6 separate regions of the Homo sapiens genome follow, and all the other regions are linked to region 1. Evidence: fine-mapped expression QTL. A gene starts in region 1. Each other region holds a variant in brackets. All regions are shown on one strand. Distances are between the middles of the regions.

What was found. PIP is the estimated chance that this variant, and not a neighbour inherited with it, causes the effect.
Region 2: its variant is the best candidate, but not a certain one, in a credible set for the expression of FRMD4B in CD4 T cells (BLUEPRINT, PIP 0.59).
Region 3: its variant is the best candidate, but not a certain one, in a credible set for the expression of FRMD4B in whole blood (INTERVAL, PIP 0.68).
Region 4: its variant is the best candidate, but not a certain one, in a credible set for the expression of FRMD4B in monocytes (TOPMed, PIP 0.60).
Region 5: its variant is the best candidate, but not a certain one, in a credible set for the expression of FRMD4B in monocytes after Pam3CSK4 (Quach 2016, PIP 0.55).
Region 6: its variant is the best candidate, but not a certain one, in a credible set for the expression of FRMD4B in whole blood (INTERVAL, PIP 0.75).

The regions. Positions count from the first base shown.
Region 1 is chr3:69,384,053-69,388,143 of GRCh38, forward strand. FRMD4B (FERM domain containing 4B) reads right to left here and starts at 2,036. Exons shown (of 23, transcript NM_015123.3): 1 at 1,776-2,036. The coding sequence starts at 1,937. RefSeq lists an enhancer at 1,503-2,113.
Region 2 is chr3:69,244,429-69,248,519 of GRCh38, forward strand. All of the region lies in intron 7 of FRMD4B (FERM domain containing 4B), which reads right to left. Among named protein-coding and RNA genes, the nearest start is that of LMOD3, 120 kb to the left of the region's middle. The variant C/A (reference allele first, on the strand shown) is at 2,242.
Region 3 is chr3:69,334,464-69,338,554 of GRCh38, forward strand. The region is part of intron 1 of FRMD4B (FERM domain containing 4B); the gene reads right to left. Among named protein-coding and RNA genes, the nearest start is that of FRMD4B, 50 kb to the right of the region's middle. The variant C/T (reference allele first, on the strand shown) is at 2,222.
Region 4 is chr3:69,350,328-69,354,418 of GRCh38, forward strand. The region is part of intron 1 of FRMD4B (FERM domain containing 4B); the gene reads right to left. Among named protein-coding and RNA genes, the nearest start is that of FRMD4B, 34 kb to the right of the region's middle. The variant G/C (reference allele first, on the strand shown) is at 1,646.
Region 5 is chr3:69,572,720-69,576,810 of GRCh38, forward strand. No RefSeq gene overlaps it. Among named protein-coding and RNA genes, the nearest start is that of MITF, 160 kb to the right of the region's middle. The variant CTTTTAT/C (reference allele first, on the strand shown) is at 1,618.
Region 6 is chr3:69,195,983-69,200,073 of GRCh38, forward strand. It overlaps FRMD4B (FERM domain containing 4B), which reads right to left. Exons shown (of 23, transcript NM_015123.3): 12 at 2,716-2,792; 13 at 918-1,056; 14 at 273-414. Among named protein-coding and RNA genes, the nearest start is that of LMOD3, 75 kb to the left of the region's middle. The variant C/A (reference allele first, on the strand shown) is at 1,770.

The DNA of each region.
Region 1 (4,091 bases):
GCCTTCTGAGTAGCTGGGATTATAGACACACAGCACACTGCCTGACTACCACCATTATTTTAGATGTTCTTATCAATTATGATATGGTATTGGCTCAGTCACCATCCATTTTAGAGAAAAGAAAAAAATACATATATTTTAGTAGCTCAGTGTCTCAAATTGCTATTCTGCATAAAAATTATCAGTCAACCTTATAAAGAATCCATAAGGTCTCAGGTTTCTGGAATCTTTATTTTTGAATTGGTCAGTAACAGTATTACAGATAAGCCATAAATCCTCTGAATCCTTGGGGAGTGAGGCACAGAGTCACTCTGGTTGGCTACAATATTTGCGTTCCCTTTTTGAAAGTTTCTCAAACACTAAAAAGGAAAAACAAAATTACATAAGGGGCACTTATTCTACAGACCAAACTGAACAGGGATTTCCCAAGAGAGGAAAAAAAAGGCTTGAAAGACAGACACACTTCTGGCTCCAAAAAGCCAGAGAGCTATGTAATGTGGCCAGATGGGATATATCCACAATTCCCTAATACTCTCAAACTCCCACATGCTGCCCTGGTTCCCAACCTGCCTTTCAGATTCCATTTCAAAATGCAAGATATCACAGATATGTTATACAAAGCAGAAGCAGTGAAAGCACAAGTTCAAATGTTCCTCATATTTTAACAAGGGTGACAAGGGGACGCTGACTCTTTAGACTTCCACAGGCTAACCTTAGGTGCTGGCCTTTTCATTTTGCCTGATTGATGGAAGATTATGGTTTGTCAAAATCAAGTGCTTGATCATGTATGAGACACAATATAATAAGACATAAATTCTAGACATATTAGGAACAGGGTCAAATGGGGGGAAATCCAGGAACTGCAACAAAGCTATTCCACATCACAGGAAAGAAAATATGATATTATCTTTCCACAGTAGACACCAAGTATATTTCTAAACAATGCAGATTTTTAAAAATCTCAAATATATTAACAACCAAAGCACAGAACTTTTAAATTCATAAATTACTGTCTAAAAAAAAAAAAAGAAATCCAGGCAAACTGCAGTACCAGAGAGGATGAATGGTCTCCTAGTTGAGCAAAGTTGCTGCATTTTTTGCCTGCAGGATGGGACCGAGCAGAGAAATAAAGGGGCTGTGTTGTGTGACAGGGAGTAAATCCTAACATGAGCATTCCAACGTGTAGCCGGGCCACCCCTCCCTTCCCCAGCCTGTCATCCTCCTGCAAAGTGTTCACAATTTGCTGTCCTTCCTTCCAAAAGCCAGTAGACACAGAATCAGCTTTTCCTGGCTCTGCCTTACAAGTTGGGGCTGCCTGATGGAAAACTGAAAATCCAACGGAAGGATAAAAATCCACCAAGGCCCCCTCTGCCAGCAAATTGGTGTGAAACCGTTGCTTCAGAAGCAGCCACTCCCACCCCCAATGAAATTAAAAAGAAGGACTCATTTGAATGTCTAAGTGGCTTTCTGAAGACCCTCTGTTGCAAAGCAACAGCCTCCCTAGTCAAGCGCCCGCCAGTACACCATTGCTCTGTAACAGATGTCTGCAAACGCTGGGACTATCTCGCAAGTGCCCCCCATGCCCGATTTGAAAAATTCACAAGCTCTGTCAAGCAATAATTACCTAGAGCTGCTGAGCGTTTGACCCAAGGGCCAAGCAGTCTGCTAGGAGTTTAAGAAGAGCTGGGGGGAATAAAATCATACAGGTGGAGCCTGCTTCCCACGAGTGCCCGGCATCCTGCTGGGGCCCTCGGGTGCCGCGCGCTCCAGCTCACCTGGTACACGTCCTGCAGCCCGCACCACGTCCGCAGCACCTGGTGGCAAGCCCGCAGCCTCTCCGTGTACCATCTCCGCAGCGTGGACACGGTCAAGTTCCATACGAAGCGGCTGCCGCTGAACAGCAGGTCCTCCACGCCACACATGAACACCGAAGCCATGCCTCCTCCTTCGCTCTGAACCCGGGCGTCCCGGCTCTCGTACGTGCAGCCCCGACCCCAGCGGCCTGCCCGCCTGGGCTCCCGACGCCGGCTTCTGCTGGCAGCCGGGGGGTCAAGCCTGCCACCAAACTCGTCTTTCACCGTGCGTCCTGGCCAGGCTCCGGCGGCATGCCCTGGGATTGGGTGCCCGCCAGCCAACGGCTGCGACTGGCACACAGAAGCCCAGTGTCCACCCCCGCCCGCTCGCAGCGCCGAGCAAGCTGTGCTAAGCTCCACCAAGCTGGCCCTCGATGCTCCCGGGGCACGGGAAGCCCTGGCCGGCGAGGACTCCCCCTGGCGCTTCCCCAGGGCGCGGGGCAGGGACGGAAGCGGAGCAACTCTTTGCAGGCAGAGAGGGGAGCTGCATTTCAGCACACTTGGCTTCCACGTCTTGCGCGCGCGCGAACACACACACACACAGACACACACCCCCCACACCGGACGAGTGGTCTCCTAATCTGCCTCGGGGAACACCTTACTCATCTTGCTCTGTTCACACTGATAAAACACCTCTGGGCAGCCACAGATGCAGAAGAGAGAGAGAGAAAAAAAAAAATCTCCAAGGCATCCCTTTGGACCCTACTCCTGGGGGAATAGCCACGAATGTTTCCTTGGTTCTGCTGGAAGCAGGAGATGAAGGCAACAGTCTCAAAGCAACAGGCGGCCCTAGAACCTGCCTTTGCTCCTAACTTGAGGGTCTCAGAGAAAATGACAGCCTCCTGTGGTTGCCAGCAGGAAGGCAGGTTTCCTCACACCAAGATGCTGCTAATACCAATGCAGCAGTCAGGGAGAAAAACAGAGTTCTTGGTCCCTTGTAAATAGCTTGCCGTTACTAGTGCTGGGAAACAGAAGCCCATAAGAGAATCGGTGGTTTAGTTCTGGAAAATTCAGCCTCTGGACATGTCTAACCTCACCTGCAAGCACCAACCTGCATGGGTAGTTTATTCTCCCCTCAAAACCAAAGGAAACTGTTCCACCACTCATGAAGTCACTAGATAATTAATCTTATTTATTTATTTATTAAAGTTTTCCCTCGGGAATTGATGCTGATTGTTGGAAACATTTGGAAAAGGGAGCTCAAGGAGTCTCGCCTACCACCAGTCTCTGTCTTCCTTTATTTATTTTTGAGACAAGGTCTGTTGCCCAGGCTGGAGAGCAGTGACTCAATCATAGCTCACAGCTGCCTTGAACTCCTGGGATGAAGTGATCCATCTTCCCACCTCAGCCACGGGGACTACAGGTGCTAAGTTTATTATCATTATTTTTTTTGTAGAGATGGGGTCTCACTATGTCGCCCAGGCTGGTTTCAAATGCCTGGGCTCAAGCAATCTTCCAGCCTCAGCCTCCCAAAGTGCTAGCGTTACAGACATGACCCATTGTGCCCAGCCTCCATTTTCCCTTAGAATGTATGAAGATTTCTCATAGCAAAAGTGCTGTAGCAAATTTCAGGATGGAGTTTTTTCCTGAATCCATCTGTAAGTCAATTGTCTGTATTTTCTTGGCTGTTTCACATCTGGGTTGTTATCTATGCTATTAAGTGGCACCAAAAGGAAAGGTAAGGCACCAAAGCTTTTCTCCTGAACTAGCCCAGAAGACTCCAGAACAGATTATCGACAAGTAAATCAGCTTGATTTCAGGTATCAAATGTGCTTTTATAATCTTAATTCAGGTGAAACTCAATCAGTCAAAAGACGAAGAACACAAAATCTGTCCTCAAAGTGCCTGTTGTTTTCAGTGACTGTAATCAGAAAACTTTTAAATGAGATTTCTTTCGTTAATAAAATTGCCCAAGAGTTTTTGTTGAATTAGTTAATAGGACACAAGACTTGGTCCAAGATTTGCAAACCTTTCTTCACAATAAGTCTTCTCTATGTGCCATCAGTATTAGTATTGATGGTTTTTTTTTCAAGATGATGGTAACGATGAATCTGAATATAATAGATTTTACTGAATCAAAAGAAAATGAACTTAGCTTGAAAAAGAACTGTCATCATGCTGAATGGAAAACTACTGAACTTCAAAAATGCCCTATTAGTACGAGCAAATGGTGGTGGTACTTTTTTTTTTTAAACGATGCAGTTCGACTGTGTTCTCGGAAATGTCAGGCAGCCAAGG
Region 2 (4,091 bases), 140 kb before region 1:
TGCCTAGGAAGGTATTTGGGGACATATTTTGGTCAATGTTTGTTTGTTTATCATGTTTTTTGAGACACAGTCTCAATGCCTGTAGTCCCAGCTGCTTGGGAGGTTGAAGCAGGAGAATCTCTTGAACCCAGGAGGTGGAGGTTGCAGTGAGCCAAGATGGCACCATTGCACTTCAGCCTGGGCGACAGAGCGAGACTCTGTTTAAACAAAAATCCCAGCATTTTGGGAGGCTGACGTGGGCGGATCACTGAGGTCAAGAGTCTGAGACCAGCCTGGACAACATGGTGAAAACTTGTCTCTACTAAAAATACAAAAATTAGCCGGGCATGGTTGTATGTGCCTGTAATCCCAGTTACTTGGGAGGCTGAGGCAGGAGAACTGCTTGAACCCAGGAGGTGGAGGTTGCAATGAGCTGCACTCCAGTCTGGATAACAGAGCAAGACTAAAAATAAATACACACAGATGTTCATCACAGCATTATTTATATTAGCTTTATGGGGAAAAAAAGCTAATATAAATAAGGCCATGATGAACATCTTTTTTCCCATTATTTATATGGGAAACAAGTAATATTTGTAACAATAGGGGAGTCCATCATGTCCATCAATTTGGTAAAATAAGATGGATTACAGGAACTGTTTTAAATACTTTACAAATGCAATATTAATTCATTTAATCCTCACAGCAATCCTATGGAGTGTGTATTATAATTGTAAGTCCCATTTTACAGATGAGGAAACTGAGGCTTGGAGATTTTAAGTAATTTGTTCAAGATTACACAGGTAATAAGTAGCCAAGCTGGCATTTGAATCAGGCTGTCTGGTTCCACAGTCTTTGCTCTAACCACTACAACATTGCCTCATGGTATTTTATTTTGCCTGACTTTCTTTGTGTGTGTGTGTGTGTGTGTGTGTGTGTGTGTGTGTTTTTAGACAGAGTCTTGCTCTGTTGCCCAGGCTGGAGTGCAGTGGAACGATCTCTAGCTCAGTGCAAACCTCCACCTCCACCTCCAGGTTCAAGCGATTCTTGTGTCTCAGCCTCCTCAGGAGCTGTTATTACAGATGTGTGCTGCCATGCACAGATAACTTTTGTATTTTTAGTAGAGACAAGGTTTTGCCATGTTGGCCAGGCTAGTCTCAAACTCCTGGCCTCGAGTGATCCGCCTATCTCGGCCTCCTAAAATGCTGGGATTACAGAAGTGAGCCATTGCACCTGGCCTTGGCTGATTTTCTTTTCTTTTTTTTTTTTTTTTTGTGACAGAGTCCCACTCTGTCATCCAGGATGGAGTGCAGTGGCACCACCTTGGCTCACTGCAACCTCCACCTCCTGGGTTCAAGCAATTATCTCGCTTCAGCCTTCCAAGTAGCTGGGACTACAGGCGTCTGCGAACGTGCCAGGCTAATTTGTTTTTTTTTTTTTTTTTTTTTTGAGACAGTTTCACTCTTGTTGCCCAGGCTGGAGTGCAATGGTGTGATCTCGGCTCACCACAACCTCTGCCTCCTGGGTTCAAGAGATTCTCCTTCCTCAGCCTCCCAAGTAGCTGGGATTACAGGCATGTGCCACCATGCCCAGCTAATTTTGTATTTTTAGTAGAAACAGGGTTTCTCCATGTTGGCCAGGCTGGTCTCGAATTCCCGACCTCAGGTGATCCACCTGCCTCGGCCTCCCAAAGTGCTGGGATTATAGGCGTGAGCCACTGTGCTCGGCACCCGGCGCCTGATTTTCTCAGAAGAGTTTTGTAACAAGGCAGGGTGCGATGGCTTGCACCTGTAATCTCGGCGCTTTGGGAGGCCAACATAGGCAGATCAGCTGGGCCCAGGAATTTGAGACCAGCCTGGGTAACATGGTGAATCCCTGTTTCTACAAAAAATACAAAAATTAGCCAGGTGTGATGGTGTGTACCTGTAGTCCCAGCCACTCAGGAGGCTGAGATGAAAGAACTGATTGAGCCAGGAGGTGGAGGTTATAGTGAACTAAGATCATGCCACTGCACACCAGCCTGGGTGAGAGAACAATGCTCTATCTCAAAAATAAACAAAAACAAAATAAAACAAAAGAAAAACAAAGAGGAGTTTTAGAACAAAACTTTGGAGGAAAAACATATCCTCTCTATTCAGGGGAGAAGATCAGATAGGGAGAGCATGGTAATTTGCAAAATGCTCCCACATGTCCTGAAAACCAACCTGCAAAGCCATTGTTTTGATTAACCCCAATTTACAGATGAGGGAACCGAGGCTCAGA[C/A]AGGATAAGTGGCCACTCAGAGGGATGTTGCCAGTCTGCGTGATTTCCAGTCCCACGCTCTCTCCACTACTTAGTGTAGTTTGGACAATTTCAAAACAGTGTGCGCCACTTCAACCTCGTGATCACTCAGGAAAACCACCAGGAACAAGCTCGAGTGAAGGCAAAGGTCTGGACTGGGCTTGCCCAGAATTAACTCGCCAACCTTGATGTCCTAGGGCTCAAATGTTTGAACAACTGAAGGACTGTCCCTTTTAGGCCTTCCTTTGCCTCAGGCAAGGGATCTTCCCTAAGGAAGGTTTGTGAAATTACCCTTTCTTTTTCTATTCTCCACCTCCCCCATAACTATAGGTTATTACAGCTTCTTCAGACCAACCTTAGTCTCAAAAGTCTCATCAGAGGTAGATAAGAGACCAGATAGGATGATAGTAATAATGAGGATAATAATAACTAAATTAATAATAATAGCCCAAGGGTGTAGATTACTTGCTATAAGCCAGATGTTGCCCTGGGCAACGTTTACATACATTTGATTCTCATGACAGTTTTATGGGAAAGGTACCATTTTACCGATGAGGAAACTGAGGCTCAGAGGGTGTCAGTCACAGCCTTGACTGGGGCTAAGTGGGGAAGGTGGGTTAGCAATCCATTGAGTGTGAGCTTTTGGGCCCTGAAACCCTCATTTACAAATTGACTTTAGAATCACCTCCCGTATGATTTCTTATCCAGGGTTGTTTTTTAAAAATCACCCCCATAAATGACTGTGTTCCTTGCATATCTGATATTCCCAGGAAACGTGGCTTTTCTGGAGAAGACAACAGTAGAGACACAGCAGCTTTTTTCTGAGTCTCACTCCGTCACCCAGGCTGGAGTGCAGTGGCGCGATCTTGGCTCACTGCAACCTTCGCCTCCCAGGTTCAAGCAATTCTCCTGCCTTAGCCTCCTGAGTAGCTGGGATTACAGGTGCCTGCCACCATGCCCAGCTAATTTTCTTTTTTTTGAGACGGAGTCTCGCTCTTTTGCCCAGGCCGGACTGCAGTGGCACTATCTCGGCTCACTGCAAGCTCCACCTCCCGGGTTCACGCCATTCTCCTGCCACAGCTTCCCAAGTAGCTGGGACTACAGGCACCCGCCACCGCACCCAGCTAATTTTTTTGTATTTTTAATAGAGACAGGGTTTCACCGTGTTAGTCAAGATGGTCTCGATCTCCTGACCTTGTGATCTGCCCGCCTCAGCCTCTCAAAGTGCTGGGATTACAGGCGTGAGCCACCGTGCCCGGCCACCCAGCTAATTTTTATATTTGTAGTAGAGACAGGGTTTCACCATGTTGGCCACGCTGGTCTGGAACTCCTGGCCTCAAGTGATCCTCCCTCCTCGGCCTCCCAAAGTGCTGGGATTACAGGCGTGAGCCACCATGCCCGGCCTCAGGCGTGAGCCTTTAATGATACTAATGGTCTGTAAACTACCTTATACTCTTGTTTTTTTTTTTAAACTCCTGCCCCTTTCTTTCCATTAAAAACAACTGGTGTTTGATTTTCATGATTTCTTCAAATTTCTTAACCTAGAAAAATGTAAATACACACACACACACACAAATATATATATATAGAGAGAGCACAAAACAGAACTGGTGGGAGATTGTGGTGAGGAATCATGGTGTTTTAAGTGGCATCCTTGAACATTCTACCAAAGCCGAATGGGAAGATGAGGAGAGTGTTGGGAGTTTCCGAACTGAAGTACAACTCCGTAACTGGAAGTTTTCAAGGTTGGAAGGCATTATTTTGTTAGTCCGTTAAGGGGCACATTATTCAAAGACTTGGCTGGGAATGAGTGCTAGGTGATCTGTAAATAA
Region 3 (4,091 bases), 50 kb before region 1:
TCTCTACAAAAAAAAAAAAAAAAATTAAAAAAATACAATAGTGGGACTGGGATTAAATGATCTGGGGAATTTAGGGGAAACATTTTGCTTCTTTGCTGTGCCTTTTGGATAACTCAGAGGTTGAGCACTGTCATCTATAGACCCAGTTAACTGTGACAGCATTCTTCCTACTGGGTACCTTCCACTCAATGACCCCTGGGTTTCAGTAGTTGCTAAATAGGTGATTTGAAGTCTGAGCACCTGAATCCAAATCTTAGCTCCACTGCTTTATCCACTGTGTGACTAGCATCCATTCACATATTCACAAATATTCATCAAGCTCTTATTGTGTTCCAGACTTTATAATAGGCTCTGGGGACTCAACAGTGACACAAGCCAGAGAGTCAAGTGCTCCTCTCTCAAAGACTTGCCAGCGAAGAAGAAAGCCAGAAAACAAGCAAATCAAGCAACACACAGGGTGATTTCAGGTCGTGTTAAGTACCATGAAAATGAGAATACAGACTAATGTGATGGGGAGAGTTGTTACTTTAGACAGAGCAGGCTGGGCCAGTGGTTCATACCTGTAATCCCAGCACTTTGGGAGGCTGATGCAGAAGGATCGCTTGAGCCCAGGAGTTTGAGGCTGCAGTGAGCTATGAGTTATGCCCTGAGCTATGAGCTATGGTCACGCCACTGCACTTCAGCTTGGGTGACAGAGTGAGACACTCTCTAAAATGCTATAAATAAAGCAGCTAGGAAACGGCTATTTGAGGAGGCAACATTTAGCCAGAAATAGCAATGATGAGGATTCAGCCTTGGCAGATCTGAGAAAAGCATATTCCAGACAGAGGCCAACAAGTGCAAAGGCCCTGAGGCAGAACATGCTTGGGTTAAGACATTGTTGCATAACTTTTTTTTTTCATTATTGCATTTTTTTTTTTTTTTTCCGAGACAGAGTCTTGATCTGTTGCCCAGGCTGGAGTGCAGTGGCACGATCTTGGCTCACTGCAACCTCCACCTCCCGGTTCAAGCAATTCTCCTGCTTCAGCCTCCCGAGTAGCTGGGATTACAGGCACGCACCACCATGCCTGGCTAATTTTTGCATCCTTGTGATCTGCCCACCTCGGCTTCCCAAAGTGTTGGGATTATGGGCATGAGCCGCTGCAGCCGGCCCCATAATTGCACTCTTAAGGAGCCTCTCTAGACAATTTTTCCCCCAATACCCTCCTCCCCCATGAAATGTTAATAACACAGATATACTTTATATCTTATCTGCTGGGCAGGACTGAGTTTTTTTTTTTTTTTTCTTTTGAGACAGAGTCTCACTCTGTCACCCACACTGCGATCTCAGCTCACTTCAGTCTCTACCTCCTAAGTTCAGGTGATTCTCCTGCCTCAGCCTCCTGAGTAGCTGGGATTACAGGTGCGTGCCACCATGTTCGGCTAATTTTTGTATTTTTAGTAGAGACACGCTTTCACCATGTTGGCCAGGCTGGTTTTGAACTCCTGACCTCAAGTGATCTGCCCACCTCAGCATCCCAAAGTGCTAGGATTACAGGTGTGAACCACCACACCTGGCTAAGAACTGAGTTTTGAAGGGCTGAAAACTATTGTAATACCTAAGATTTTCTTTACCCCTCAAGAACCAATTATAACTTCCCTTGGGGGGTGAAGTCACCCTATGGAGAATGCACAGTTTAAGAAAAAAAAGGCAACAAATGTGGTTGGAGGTTGGTCACCAAGAGGGAGAGAACAAGAGACAAGCTTAGAGTTAATGAGGGGCTCATCAGTGGTTCTTGAAGTGTGGTCTTAGGACTCACAGCAGCATCAACTGGAGCCTGTTAGGAATAGAGAGTGGCACCCGGCAATCTGTGTGTTCACAACCTTCCAGGTCACTCTCATGCCTGCTAAAGTCTGAAACTACTGGGCTAGAATCATTCACTGCATTGTAGGCCATAGTAAGAAGTATGGAGTTTGTTTCAGATGCAGCAAAAAGCCAATGGAGGCTTTTAGGCATGGAGAAGATAATCTGGGGCTATATATAAAGGATAAGTCTGCTTACTGTGAGGAGACCAAACTGGAGTGGGTGAGGCAAAAGTGGAAGAATGAGAAATAATCCAAAAGGCTTTTGCACTGGTACTTATCTGTAAAATGGGCATGCAAAGATGACCAAATTCATAAGGTTGTTGTGAGGATCAAATGAGTGAATACCCACAATGGCTTGGCTGGGTGTGGTGGCTCA[C/T]GCCTGTAATCCCAGCACTTTGGGAGGCTGAAGCGGGTGGATCACATGAGGTCAGGAGTTCGAGACCAGCCTGGGGAGAGAAACCCTATCTCTACTAAAAATATAAAAAATTAGCTGGGCATGGTGGCGCATGCCTGTAATCCCAGCTACTTTGGAGGCTGAGGCAGGAGAATTGCTTGAACCTGGGAGGCAGAGGTTGCAGTGAGCCAAGATCATGCCACTACACTCCAGCCTGGGCATCAGAGTGAGACTCTGTCTCAAAAAACAAAAACAAACAAACACAGTGGCAAAGACATGAAATCAACCTAAATGTCCATTAATGGTAGAACAGATAAAGAAAATGTGGCACCACGCTACCTGACTTCAAACTATACTACAAGGCTACAGTAACCAAAACAGCATGGTACTGGTATCAAAACAGAGATATAGACAAATGGAACAGAACAGAGCTCTCAGAAATAATGCCACATATCTACAACTATCTGATCTTTGACAAACCTGACAAAAACAAGCAATGGGGAAAGGATTCCCTATTTAATAAATGGTGCTGGGAAAACTGGCTAGCCATATGTAGAAAGCTGAAACTGGATCCCTTCCTTACAACTTATACAAAAATTAATTCAAGATGGATTAAAGACTTAAATGTTAGACCTAAAACCATAAAAACTCTAGAAGAAAACCTAGACAATACCATTCAGGACATAGGCATGGGCAAGGACTTCATGTCTAAAACACCAAAAGCAATGGCAACAAAAGCCAAAATTGACAAATGGGGTCTAATTAAACTAAAGACCTTCTTCACAGCAAAAGAAACTACCATCAGAGTGAACAGGCAACCTACAGAATGGGAGAAAATTTTTGCATCCTACTCATCTGACAAAGGGCTAATATCCAGAGTCTACAATGAACTCCAACAAATTTACAAGAAAAAAACAAACAACCCCATCAAAAAGTGGGCAAAGGATATGAACAGACACTTCTCAAAAGAAGTCACTTATGCAGCCAAAAGACCCATGAAAGAATGCTCATCATCACTGGACATCAGAGAAATGCAAATCAAAACCACAGTGAGATACCATCTCACACCAGTTAAAATGGCAATCATTAAAAAGTCAGGAAACAACAGGTGCTGGAGAGGATGTGGAGAAATAGGAACACTTTGACACTGTTGGTGGGACCGTAAACTAGTTCAACCATTGTGGAAGACAGTGTGGCGATTCCTCAGGGATCTAGCAGTAGAAATACCATTTGACCCAGCCATCCCATTACTGGGTATATACCCAAAGGATTATAAAACATGCTGCTTTAAAGACACATGCACACGTATGTTTATTGCAGCACTATTCACTATAGCAAAGACTTGGAACCAACCCAAATGTCCAACAATGATAGACTGGATTAAGAAAATGTGGCACATATACACCATGGAATACTCTGCAGCCATACAAAAGGATGAGTTCAGGTCCTTTGTAGGGACAGGGATAAAGCTGGAAACCATCATTCTGAGCAAACTATCGCAAGGACAAAAAACCAAACTCCACGTGTTCTCATTCATAGGTGGGAATTGAACAATGACAACTCATGGATGCAGAACGGGGAACATCACACTCTGGGGACTGTTGTGAGTGGGGAGAGGGGGGAGGGATAGCATTAGGAGATATACCTAATGTTAAATGACGAGTTAATGGGTGCAGCACACCAACATGGCACATGTATATATATGTAACAAACCTGCACGTTGTGCACATGTACCCTAAAACTTAAAGTATAATAAAAAAAGAAAATGTGTCACATATACACCATGGAATATTATGCAGCCATAAAAAAGTGAGAAAATGTCCTTTGCAACAACATGAATGGAGCTGGAGGT
Region 4 (4,091 bases), 34 kb before region 1:
GTGCTGGAGAGGATGTGGAGAAATAGGAACACTTTGACACTGTTGGTGGGACTGTAAACTAGTTCAACCATTGTGGAAGACAGTGTGGCGATTCCTCAGGGATCTAGCAGTAGAAATACCATTTGACCCAGCCATCCCATTACTGCGTATATACCCAAAGGATTATAAATCATGCTGCTTTAAAGACACATGAACATGTATGTTTACTGTGACACTATTCACAATAGCAAAGACTTGGAACCAATCCAAATGTCCAACAGTGATAGACTGGATTAAGAAAATGTGGCACATATACACCATGGAATACTGTGCAGCCATAAAGAAGAATGAGTTCATGTCCTTTGTAGGGACATGGATGGTGCTGGAAACTATCATTCTCAGCAAACTATCGCAAGGACAAATAACCAAACACTGCATGTTCTCACTCACAGGTGGGAATTGAACAATGAGAACACTTGGACACAGGAAGGGGAACAGCACACGCTGGGGCCTGCCTTGGGGTGTGGGGAGGGGGGAGGGGGGAGGGATAGCATTAGGAGATATACCTAATGTAAATGATGAGTTAATGGGTGCAGCACAGCAACATGGCACATGTATACATATGTAACAAACCTGCACATTGTGCACATGTACTCTAGAACTTAAAGTATAATAATAATAAAAAAAGAAAACCAAATGAGAAAATAAACCAATACAAGACAACAGAAGTGTGCATACCTTTACAGCCTGATCTACAAAAGCTTCCTTTAAGGAAAAAAAAAGCAACTGAAGTATACAGCAAGCCCAATACCTTCCTTTCTTAGATTGCTGTTATTGGAATAATAAATTGATTGTTTAACCTTGCCAAATCACATAAACATATATTAATGTATAGTTTACCTGTACTCAGGCTTACTTTTCCAGTTTAGGAAAATATTGCATTTAAAATTTTTTCTAGTTTTCCAACATTAAGCAAGAAAAAAGTCTTAATTGGAGCTTCACAGAATCTACCTCAGGGACAAACGTAAGTCTCATACTTGAATTATGATCCCGAGACAGGCCTCTGCTGAGAGCTCACTAGTATTTTCAGGTTGCCAAAATATTTTTGAAACAAAGAGAAAGTGTTTTAGTATGGTTTTACCTAGCACTATAGCTTTTTGTGATAAGAGACAAGACATGTAGTTCTTTTCCTGGGGTCTTTTGCACACCTGTGCACAGGCTTCTGCTAGCAATTGGAAACCATGCAGAACAGAAAGCAGAATCTCATTTGGATGCAGCTCCCACTTTTCTATTCCAAGATGCACGCACCCATGTAAAGAAACTCTTGCTTCATGAAATTCAGAGATGCTGGAAATTAGGCAAAATCATCCTCTGGCCCAGAAAAGGCAAAGGGTGGACAGAGCATAGATTCGGAACTCAGGAGATCCAGAATCCAGGCTGTGCCCTGCCCCTAACGGGATAGGAAGTCTTAGAAAAATTCCTCCTCTTCTCTGGATTTTAATCTCTTCAGTAACAGAATGAGGAGATTGGACAAAGTGACTTACAAGGTTTCTTCTGGTTTAAATGTTCCATGGCATAAATATATCTAACAATTCTGCTCAGCCAATAATATTTGTCCACCACCCATCACCCTGCCTCCTGATAGTTACTGGGAATTCTCTCCATG[G/C]GTGAGACATAGTACCTGTCTGCAGCAACCTCCATTCTAGTAGTAACAACTTCCCTGCATACTTCAAATGTAGGATCAAACACAGTGGAACACACAGAGTATGCTCTGGAGTGGGACTTGGTATATCTGGGAATATATTAGGCCCTCTGCTAAGAGCTGTAGTTTCTGACCCCTGAAAGAGCTGCATAACAAGATAGTCTTACTTCTCAGGATGTTCTATGGCCTGAATCTTCAGAACAGGATCATTTATAATGAGGCCTTAGGTCACCATAATGTCACTCTGAGAATCCAGGTCACAGGACTGCATTTGGATAAGATTATATTCCTTTTCACTCCTTCGGACATTAGATACCTTTAGATAGGACCGATTTAGAGACAATGGACTCATTTCTAAGGCTACACTATTATGTTGTTACATTATAGCAAAAGGGTACTATTCCAGTTCCTATTGTGATATATTTAATTTCTTTGATGTTTCTCTTCTCTACCCAATCCTGCCCACTTCCTCTACAGACTTCCTTCTATCCCCAGGAGTTTTGCAGTCTACTGGATGAGATAATTTCCTTTGTTTTTTACCCAGATATTCCTCCCCTCCACCATCAACATCTACCCATCAAGGAAGAAAAATGGCCACATGGAGTTGGACTTAATGAGTTTGCCATAACCACATTACAAGGCAGCAAAGAAAAAAAACCTTCCCTTTAATAAGGATGTAGGACTTCCTCTGACAAATCATAAAAGTTTTATTAATTAATTGGAAGCCGTCCCCAAAAATGGCATTTCCGAGGTTTCTATCTTGAACTGCTGAATTCTGATCACATAGAATCCTCACCACAAACTAGACTGGAGGACAAAATTCAATTTTCCTTCTTCTTTCTGGAGGCAAAGCAGGGACCCACATCAAAGGATCCTTTCAGATGGGCTGCTAATGAGCTCTAGGACACCACGGAATTTTTGTTGCCAAGTGTTCACAAAAACAGGGAAGGCCCCAAACACATCTTGCTGATGAAACGATGAACAATTATAAATCAAAAAGCATTTCTGTGTTGCTTACTGACACAGTTCCTGCCCTCTCTCTGTCTTTTCTACATCCATAAAGAAACTCCAGTATTTAAAATTTAAAAAAAAAAAGAAGAAGAAAAAAGGAGAGTGGTGGGAGCAGGGGAAAGGGTGATGAAGTGGAATTACATACTTCATATTTGCCAAAGTTCTAAAGCAAAATAAGAAATCAGCCTTTCACGACCTTTAAAGGAGCAAAGATAGCATTAAAACAATGACAGGAAAACCCTCCAGACGATGGGCGTCTTTAAGGACCATCTTCACTTGGTATCAAACAGAGCACATCCAACTCCGTTTTGGAAAAAGTAATTCCTTCACAAGAGTGAAGATAAACATTTCTTGTAATTTCCTTTTCTGCAAGTTGGGTTCTGCAATATTAGTTCTTAGATTAGTCCACCCCCAGTACAATATTAAAATCTGCCCAAGATTTTGCTATGAAATGCCAGTCAAAGCTGAAGAAGCACCGTTACACAGTCTGCAACTGGAAGATCATAAAAAAAAATCATTCTTACCTCCGAACCACCATGACCTCGGCTCATTTAAAGGAACTGAAGAGAGTGCTTAAGACAAAAGACACACGTATTAAGCACTTGTGCGGTGTGTGTGTGTGTGCGCGCGCGTGTGTGTGCGCGCATGTGCTTGCATTTTCTCCAACTACAAGCCAGTGGAAGTAGGAACTTAAAAACTCCCGACGCCTTCCGCTGCCATATAATCTCAAGGAAATGACCATACTGTTTGTTTCTTTGATTAGAAACAAAAGCCTTTCAATATGAGTCACGGGAGAAATGGGAAAATAAAAACAACTAAAAAACTTCTGCTATTTCTTTTGGCCACTCAAACGCTTTCTTTACAACACATTTAAAACATATGATGAAATGTCATCTACTGTTTTCTAAACTTCCTTGATAATGCAAGCTTTAGGTTGGGTAATTATTCAGAGATAGGCGATGCCATGTATGAATCTAAACTTCTATGCATGTTCTGGATGAGGCTGGGAATTTAATGAATATAAATAAAAACAATATTTAACTCAACTTTGCTACTCACAGCCAGTTGATGTTAACAGCTTTTCCACTCAGAAAGAAACTTAGAATTCCATGGAACAACCTTAGTAAAATCAATCAGAGATGCCAGCCACAACAGAAAATCTTGGCAGAATGACGTGGTCTCAGAAAAGATTCATTTCACTATTTGCATTTAATGAAATCATTACTATTGAAGTCATTCAGTGAATAGGAAATAATCAAAATACATTATGCTTGAAGGCAGAGAGAAAAACATATAGAATACTGGAAAAATAATAAATTTACTTTTTTTAAAAAAAGAGAATGACTAAGTAAAAGTTTGTGACAGGGTATCATGCTTCTCCCTCCTGAAAAAAAGAACA
Region 5 (4,091 bases), 190 kb after region 1:
ATTGTATAGTGCTCATGGAAGCACAAATTATTCCCTCCAATCTGATTGAGAAGGATAATAATAGGAGATGAGATAGATGTAGTTAGGGCCCAGATCCTACATGGGCTCCAGACCCCCTTAAGAACTTTCAATTTTGTTTGAAGTTTCCAGGAAACCATAGGAGGACTTTAAAGCCAAAGAGAGGCACCCTCTTCTTCACCCATTGGACAAGGTCCACTTTGGCTGCTGGGTGAAGATCAAACTGCTGTGGGGGATGGATTTAATCAATGACTAAATTGTATTATTAACATATAATTTTCAAAAAAGGGTAAAATCCTGATGCTCATACAAATATTTAAAGAAAGCACTTGTTAAAGATTTTATTGAATTCATTAATCACTGAGGAAACTGGCAGTTGACCCAGTGAGAGGCAAGGATGGCTTGCAGGTAGCAGTGAAGATAGAGAGAAGAGGGATTCAGGATCACTTGTAGAGTTAGAGCTGAAAGAACTGGTTCTTGTTTTACCTAGAGTCTTGTTGCTAACTGATACGCAGAAAGAAACAAACCTTGAACCTCCAGAACTGGAAAAAGTGGGTAAGGAAGAGAAGACCTTAGCCTTGTAAAGAGGGTCAGGTGAATTAGCAAGAAAAAGCAGAGCTAGAGGCTGCAGGCACCTAGTTTTGAGAAAGGGAGTGAAACAGAAGGCAAACGACACTGAGGCCTGAAATCTGCACCAAGTTAACTGTACAATGTGCCATTGTGGCTGGTAATAATCCTTGCCTATACTGAACTGCTAGTCTGGAAATGCCCTCACACTTAGTGTGAATAGTGAATTTGGATCTGCAGGGGAAATGGGACAAGAAGGTACCTGCCTGTAAGAGAAAGGGGTTATAGCAGAGGTTACAATCCTCAAGGGTTCACCGGTAGGTGGAAATACAGCCCCTCACTCCTTGCTCATCACTACATCACCCCGTGATCCAATAATTTACCCAATATAAGTGGCAGGAGAAGGCCAATTATGGGAGTCTTGTTTGGGGGCTGCCTGAAGGGACTTCTTCCATTACGATTACTGTGACCTTGTTTGATAGATGTGAAAATCAAGTCCTAAAAAGGCTAAAAGAGCTGCCGAATGCCACAAAGAAGTGGCGTTGTCACTGGAAACCAGAGTCTCACTCAACAGTACTCGTCTCACTGCACTGTACAGCCCTAGTTCTACCATGCCAATTCGTTCAGAACAAGATCAGACTCAACTTTCTGTATCAGCACTATCCAAAAGCACTTGCTGCAATGATAGAAATGTATAATTATGCTGTCTGATACATTAGCTGATAGCCACATGTAGCAATTGAGTACTTGAAATATATTACTGAGACTGAGGAACTGAATTTTTAATTTAATTTAAATGTAAATAGACACATGTGGCTGGCTAATAGCTACTCTCTAGGACCATGAAGTTTTCTACCACAGCAAACTGTACATTTCTTAATAGGGCTTCATTGTGGACATTTGTCAATTCATTTTTGCTTGAACACCTTTCCTAGGTTTCAGCTCCTGGCCTTGAACAGTCCTCCCACCTCAGCCTGCCAAGTAGCTGGGATTACAGGCCTGAGCCACCATACCTGGCAACAAGAGTATGTT[CTTTTAT/C]TATTATTATTATTATTATTATTATTATTATACTTTAAGTTCTAGGGTACATGTGCACAACGTTCAGGTTTGTTACATATGTATACATGTGCCATGTTGGTGTGCTGCACCCATTAACTCATCATTTACATTAGGTATATCTCCTAATGCTATCCCTCCCCCCTCCCCCCACCCCACAACAGGCCACAGTGTGTGATGTTCCCCTTCCTGTGTCCAAGTGTTCTCATTGTTCAATTCCCACCTATGAGTGAGAACATGCGGTGTTTGGTTTTTTGTCCTTGTGATAGTTTGCTGAGAGTGATGGTTTCCAGCTTCATCCATGTCCCTACAAAGGACATGAACCCATCCTTCTTTATGGCTGCATAGTATTCCATGGTGTATATGTGCCACATTTTCTTAATCCAGTCTATCATTGATGGACATTTGAGTTGGTTCCAAGTCTTTGCTATTGTGAATAGTGCCGCAATAAACATACGTGTGCATGTGTCTTTATAGGAGCATGATTTATAATCCTTTGGGTATATACCCAATAATAGGATGGCTGGGTCAAATGGTATTTCTAGTTCTAGATCCTTGAGGAATCGCCACACTGTCTTCCACAATGGTTGAACTAGTTTACATTCCCACCAACAGTGTAAAAGTGTTCCTATTTCTCCACATCCTCTCCAGCACCTGTTGTTTCCTGACTTTAACGATCGCCATTCTAACTGGTGTGAGATGATATCTCATAGTGGTTTTGATTTGCATTTCTCTGATGGCCAGTGATGATGAGCATTTTTTCATGTGTCTGTTGGCTGCATAAATGTCCTCTTTTCAGAAGTGTCTGTTCATATCCTTTGCCCACTTTTTGATGGGGTTGTTTGTTTGTTTCTTGTAAATTTGTTTGAGTTCTTTATAGATTCTGGTTATTAGCCCTTTGTCAGATGAGTAGATCGCAAAAATTTTCTCCCATTCTGTAGGTTGCCTGTTCACTCTGATGGTAGTTTCTTTTGCTGTGCAGAAGCTCTTTAGTTTAATTAGATCCCATTTGTCAATTTTGGCTTCTGTTGCCATTGCTTTTGGTGTTTTAGACATGAAGTCCTTGCTCATGCCTATGTCCTGAATGGTATTGCCTAGGTTTTCTTCTAGGGTTTTTATGGTTTTAGGTCTAACATATAAGTCTTTAATCCATCTTGAATTAATTTTTGTATAAAGTGTAAGGAAGAGATCCAGTTTCAGCTTTCTACATATGGCTAGCCAGTTTTCCCAGCACCATTTATTAAATAGGGAATCCTTTCCTCATTTCTTGTTTTTGTCAGGTTTGTCAAAGATCAGATGGTTTTAGATGTGTGATATTATTTCTGAGGGCTCTGTTCTGTTCCATTGGTCTATATCTCTGTTTTGGTACCAGTACCATGCTGTTTTGGTTACTGTAGCCTTGTAGTATAGTTTGAAGTCAGGTAGCATGATGCCTCCAGCTGTGTTCTTTTGGCTTAGGATTGACTTGGCAATGCGGGATCTTTTTTGGTTCCATATGAACTTTAAAGTAGTTTTTTCCAATTCTGTGAAGAAAGTCATTGGTAGCTTGATGGGGATGGCTTTGAATCTATAAATTACCTTGGGCAGTATGGCCATTTTCACGATATTGATTCTTCCTACCCATGAGCATGGAATGTTCTTCCATTTCTTTGTATCCTCTTTTATTTCACTGAGCAGTGGTTTGTAGTTCTCCTTGAAGAGGTCCTTCACGTCCCTTGTAAGTTGGATTCCTAGATATTTTATTCTCTTTGAGGCAATTGTGAATGGGAGTTCACTCATGATTTGGCTGTCTGTCTGTTATTGTTGTGTAAGAATGCTTGTGATTTTTGTACATTGATTTTGTATCCTGAGACTTTGCTGAAGTTGCTTATCAGCTTAAGGAGATTTTGGGCTGAGACGATGGGGTTTTCTAGATATACAATCATGTCGTCTGCAAACAGGGACAATTTGACTTCCTCTTTTCCTAATTGAATACCCTTTATTTCCTTCTCCTGCCTGATTTCTCTGGCCAGAACTTCCAACACTATGTTGAATAGGAGTGGTGAGAGAGGGCATCCCTGTCTTGTGCCAGTTGTCAAAGGGAATGCTTCCAGTTTTTGCCCATTCAGTATGATATTGGCTGTGGGTTTGTCATAGATAGCTCTTATTATTTTGAGATATGTCCCATCAATACCTAATTTATAGAGAGTTTTTAGCATGAAGGGTTGTTGAATTTTGTCAAAGGCCTTTTCTGCATCTATTGAGATAATCATGTGGTTTTTGTCTTTGGTTCTGTTTATATGCTGGATTATGTTTATTGATTTGCATATATTGAACCAGCCTTGCATCCCAGGGATGAAGCCCACTTGATCACGGTGGATAAGCTTCTTGATGTTCTGCTGGATTTGGTTTGCCAGTATTTTACTGAGGATTTTTGCATCAATGTTCATCAAGGATATTGGTCTAAAATT
Region 6 (4,091 bases), 190 kb before region 1:
CTGCTGTGGAAAATGTTCTTTCAAGCCACACCTTGGTACTCACCATCCTTGCATCTCATATGACATGCACAACCTATTTATAATTTGACTTTCTACATATTCTTTAAAAAATTAGCCTTAAAATTTTATTCAAAGCTGTCGCATACATACTTATTGACATACTTATTTATTCCCAAAATAATGGATTAAAAGATGAATTTCGAAGTGGTTTATGACCGAAAAAACAAACGAAATAAAGATGGCTTGCACGTTCTCTAATCCCAAGATGTTACCTGAGGAGATTAAACTGCCATTACTTGCCATGATGAACTGACTTTTCGTCTCCAGTGTCACCAGCTTGGAGGCCCTTTGTGTTCCTGTCTCTGTCAAATCCATTGCAATCTCATCTAAACTCCTGGCTGAAGGAATTTTTGCCTAAGAGGCATACAACAATGAAACAGAATTAACTCAAACATACTTCAAATTAATGAAACAATTAAGTTAACATACAATAAAAATAGCAACACAGAGGATAATTTAGAATTTTCACATATTCAAGTGGCATTCTTCAGACCAAAAAACAAAACAAAACAAAAACCCCACAAGTAGTTAAAATGTTTTAATAACTATACGTGATTTTCTCATGGTGTGGTTCAGTTACTAACTTTGAAGTGTCACCGGCAACATCACCGCCAGCAGTGTCACCAGTATATACAAACGTGCATGCCAAAAAGTTGGCCAGTCTTACAACTTTTAAAGCAGCTTATATATTGCCCATCATGTAAACATATAAAAAACCTGAAATAGTTGGAAGTTAAACGCAAAAAAATCTCAGAGAGCAAAAATATATGTGCTTGCATCTTTTGTGAGAAGGCTTATCTTCTGAACAGAATGCAAAAGGGGAATCTGTCCCTATAGAAATGATGCCAGTTACTTACTTTGCTTTGCTTCCGGTCCAAGTAAAACTGATGCTGACTAATTGCCATTACCCAAATGGACTTGATGAGAGAAGAGTTAGCATACCATGTTTGCACAAACAAGCCACTTTGCCCAAAGGTTCTTCTTGAAACTGAAATCCTGAAAGATTAAAGAAAGCACTCAAATAATTCCCCTCTGGCCCAGCATGATGCAAAATGTACCCTGCGAGCAGCATTGTAACAAAGCATGTTCCTCTTACCTGTCTTCTGTTGCAAAAACTCTTACGCAAATGGGGACCAAGTTTCTGATTTTCTCCTTTTACAACAAAACAATTCAGACCTAAGTAATCTCTTTCTGGATAAACAGCATGTTTAAAAACACATACACATGAACTCAAAAGCTGATAAAGAATCAGTCAAATTAGAGATTATACAAAAACATTTAGTTAGAAACTCTAAGGATGTGTAGCCATCACAAGTGGTAAGGAATAAATGGGATAAGATTTTAAAGAAACAGCAACCAAGTGTGGGGTGAGCACCTAATTCAAGGTAAAAGAGCATTTCAGATCTAGGTAGATTTGGCCGGCTCTGACATTATCAGAGAATGCACTTAACGATAATGGCTGAAAATATGCAAGTCCAAAACTGTCCAGAGTGCTGCTTGTACACCAGATGGAAAGAGGAAAGGGGACGGGGGAGGAGAGAGGAGGAGGGAGAGGGGAGAGGGGGAGCGGGGAGAAGGGAGGGAGGGGAAGTGAAAGAGAGAGAGACAGAGAGAAAGAAAGAGAGAACAGGCAAGAGGCAGACAGACTGTGTGTGTGTGACGTGGTACTAATGTTCTTTGTAGGAATTTGGCTTATCTCTTCAGGTCAC[C/A]TTTTTATCACAGGTATTTCCTCCCATCCCTCTGGCCTCTAAACATCCATAACCATCTCGGGACTGAAAAGTACCCACTAAGGACTGATTAAGAATTTCTCTTAAGGCCGGGTGCCATGGCTCAGCACTTTGGGAGGCGGAGACGGGCGGATCACCTGAGGTCAGGAGTTTGAGACCAGCCTGGCCAACATGGTGAAAGCCCGTCTCTACTAAAAATACAAAATTAGCTTGGCGTGGTGGTGCATGCCTGTACTCCCAGCTACTTGGGAGGTTGAGGCATGAGCATCACCTGAACCTGGGAGGTGTAGGTTGCAGTGAGCAAAGATTGCGCCACTGCACTGCAGTCTGGGTGACAGAGTAAGACTCTGTCTGGCAGTTGGGGGCGGGCGGAGGGGGGCGGGATTTCTCCTAAGATATTTGAGAACCCACATCCTGACTTCAGTTCATGTTGGTAATTTGGCTTTTTTTTTTTTTTTTAAATGACCAAGAACACCAACATTTTAAATGAGCAAAAGATCTGAATAGACATTTCTCTACTAAAGATATAGGAATAGCTAAGCAGCACATGAAAAGATGCTCAGCCATCATTAGTCATGAGGGAAGTGCAAATCAAAACCACAAGAAGGTACCACTTCAACCCACTAGGATGGCATAAACTATACATGCACACAAAACTAAAAATAACAAGTGTCGGTGAGGATGTGTCGGCATTGGAACCACATATACTGCTGCTTGGGATGTAAAATGGTGCAGCACTTTGAAAAGCAGCCTTGCCATTCCTCAGAGGGTTAAAGATAGTTACCATTTGACCCAGCAATTCCATTCCTAGGTATACACCCAAGAGAAATGAAAACATATGTTCATATAAAAACTTGTACACAAATGTTGATAGCAGCGTTATTTGTATAGTAACTGTGTCATACAGAGAAACGTCTTTGATCCTCACCTTCGTGGATCATGAACTTCAACAGCAAATTTTTTCTCACGGAAATATAAGTTCTCCAGCTGTTTCCATTGGAATAACTAAAGAAAACAGAAAAGCCAGGAAGTATTATTTATGCTTATTTTTACTAATTCTATAAATCAGCTTAATAATCAAACAATTATAAGCTCCAAGAAGGTACACTGATACGATGAAACATGAATATGTGATTCAGCCTTTTTACAAATCAACTATGACCTGAAACCATTTTATTCCTTCTTCTGGCAGCAATCTTTAACTATTAAGATTCACCTCGGCCGGGCGCGGTGGCTCACGCCTGTAATCACAGCACTTTGGGAGGCCGAGGCAGGTGGATCACGAGGTCAGGAGATCGAGACCATCCTCGCTAACACGGTGAAACCTTGTCTCTACTAAAAATACAAAAAAAATTAGCCGGGCGTGCTGGTGGGTGCCTGTAGTCCCAGCTACTCGGGAGGCTGAGGCAGGAGAATGGCGTGCACCCGGGAGGCGGAGGTTGCAGTGAGCCCAGATCGCGCCACTGCACTCCAGCCTGGGCGACAGAGCGAGACTCCGTCTCAAAAAAAACAAGATTCACATCACCAATAAATCTTCCTTGAACAATAAAACCAACCATCTGTGGAAGAACATGTACACTATTTTTCCTCTGACTCAACTATATAATAAGGAAATCTGCACAGATTCCAGTAAGCACCAGCCTTCTCAAAGATGTTGATTTCATAGTTAAATGGAAAGATATTCAAAGGGATATTTCAATAACATCAGAGATTGAATTTCAAAAGAATACAAAGTGAAAGTAAAACGGAACCCCCATGCAGGGGTGATTCTCTGAGATACCACTTTCCTACCTATGAAGAGTTCCCCTAAATGCCACAGAAACCTAGCACCAGTAATTGGGGGCAGAGAAGGGGTAGGAGGGAACACCAGAGCCTCTTCTTGGTTTCTGAGCTAGAACCTCCAGTTTTTGAACATAGCTAGCTCCCAGTGTCTGTACACTCTGATATACACACTACTGATACTCTATTGCGGCACTCAGTGCCGTCAGTTTGATTGGGAGGAACAAACTTTACTAGCAATGTGCATTTGAAAACCAAATAATTTGATAGAAAGCAGCTCATTCACAGAATTGAGGATGCCTTGCTATGTTTTCTGGGCTGCTTCCTAAGCTCTTTATAAGACATTGTACTATCCTGAGCCTTGGTTTGTCCTGTCAACTTGGACTTCATGGTCAAATTCCTCTTCTCTGCCCCCAGACTTGATTAGGGAAATAACAGCAGAGAGTTTCATTATATTATTAGACTTCGGCTGGATTTTAAAATTATGTTCAAAGAATCTTAAAAGATTATTTTTAATAGTCTATA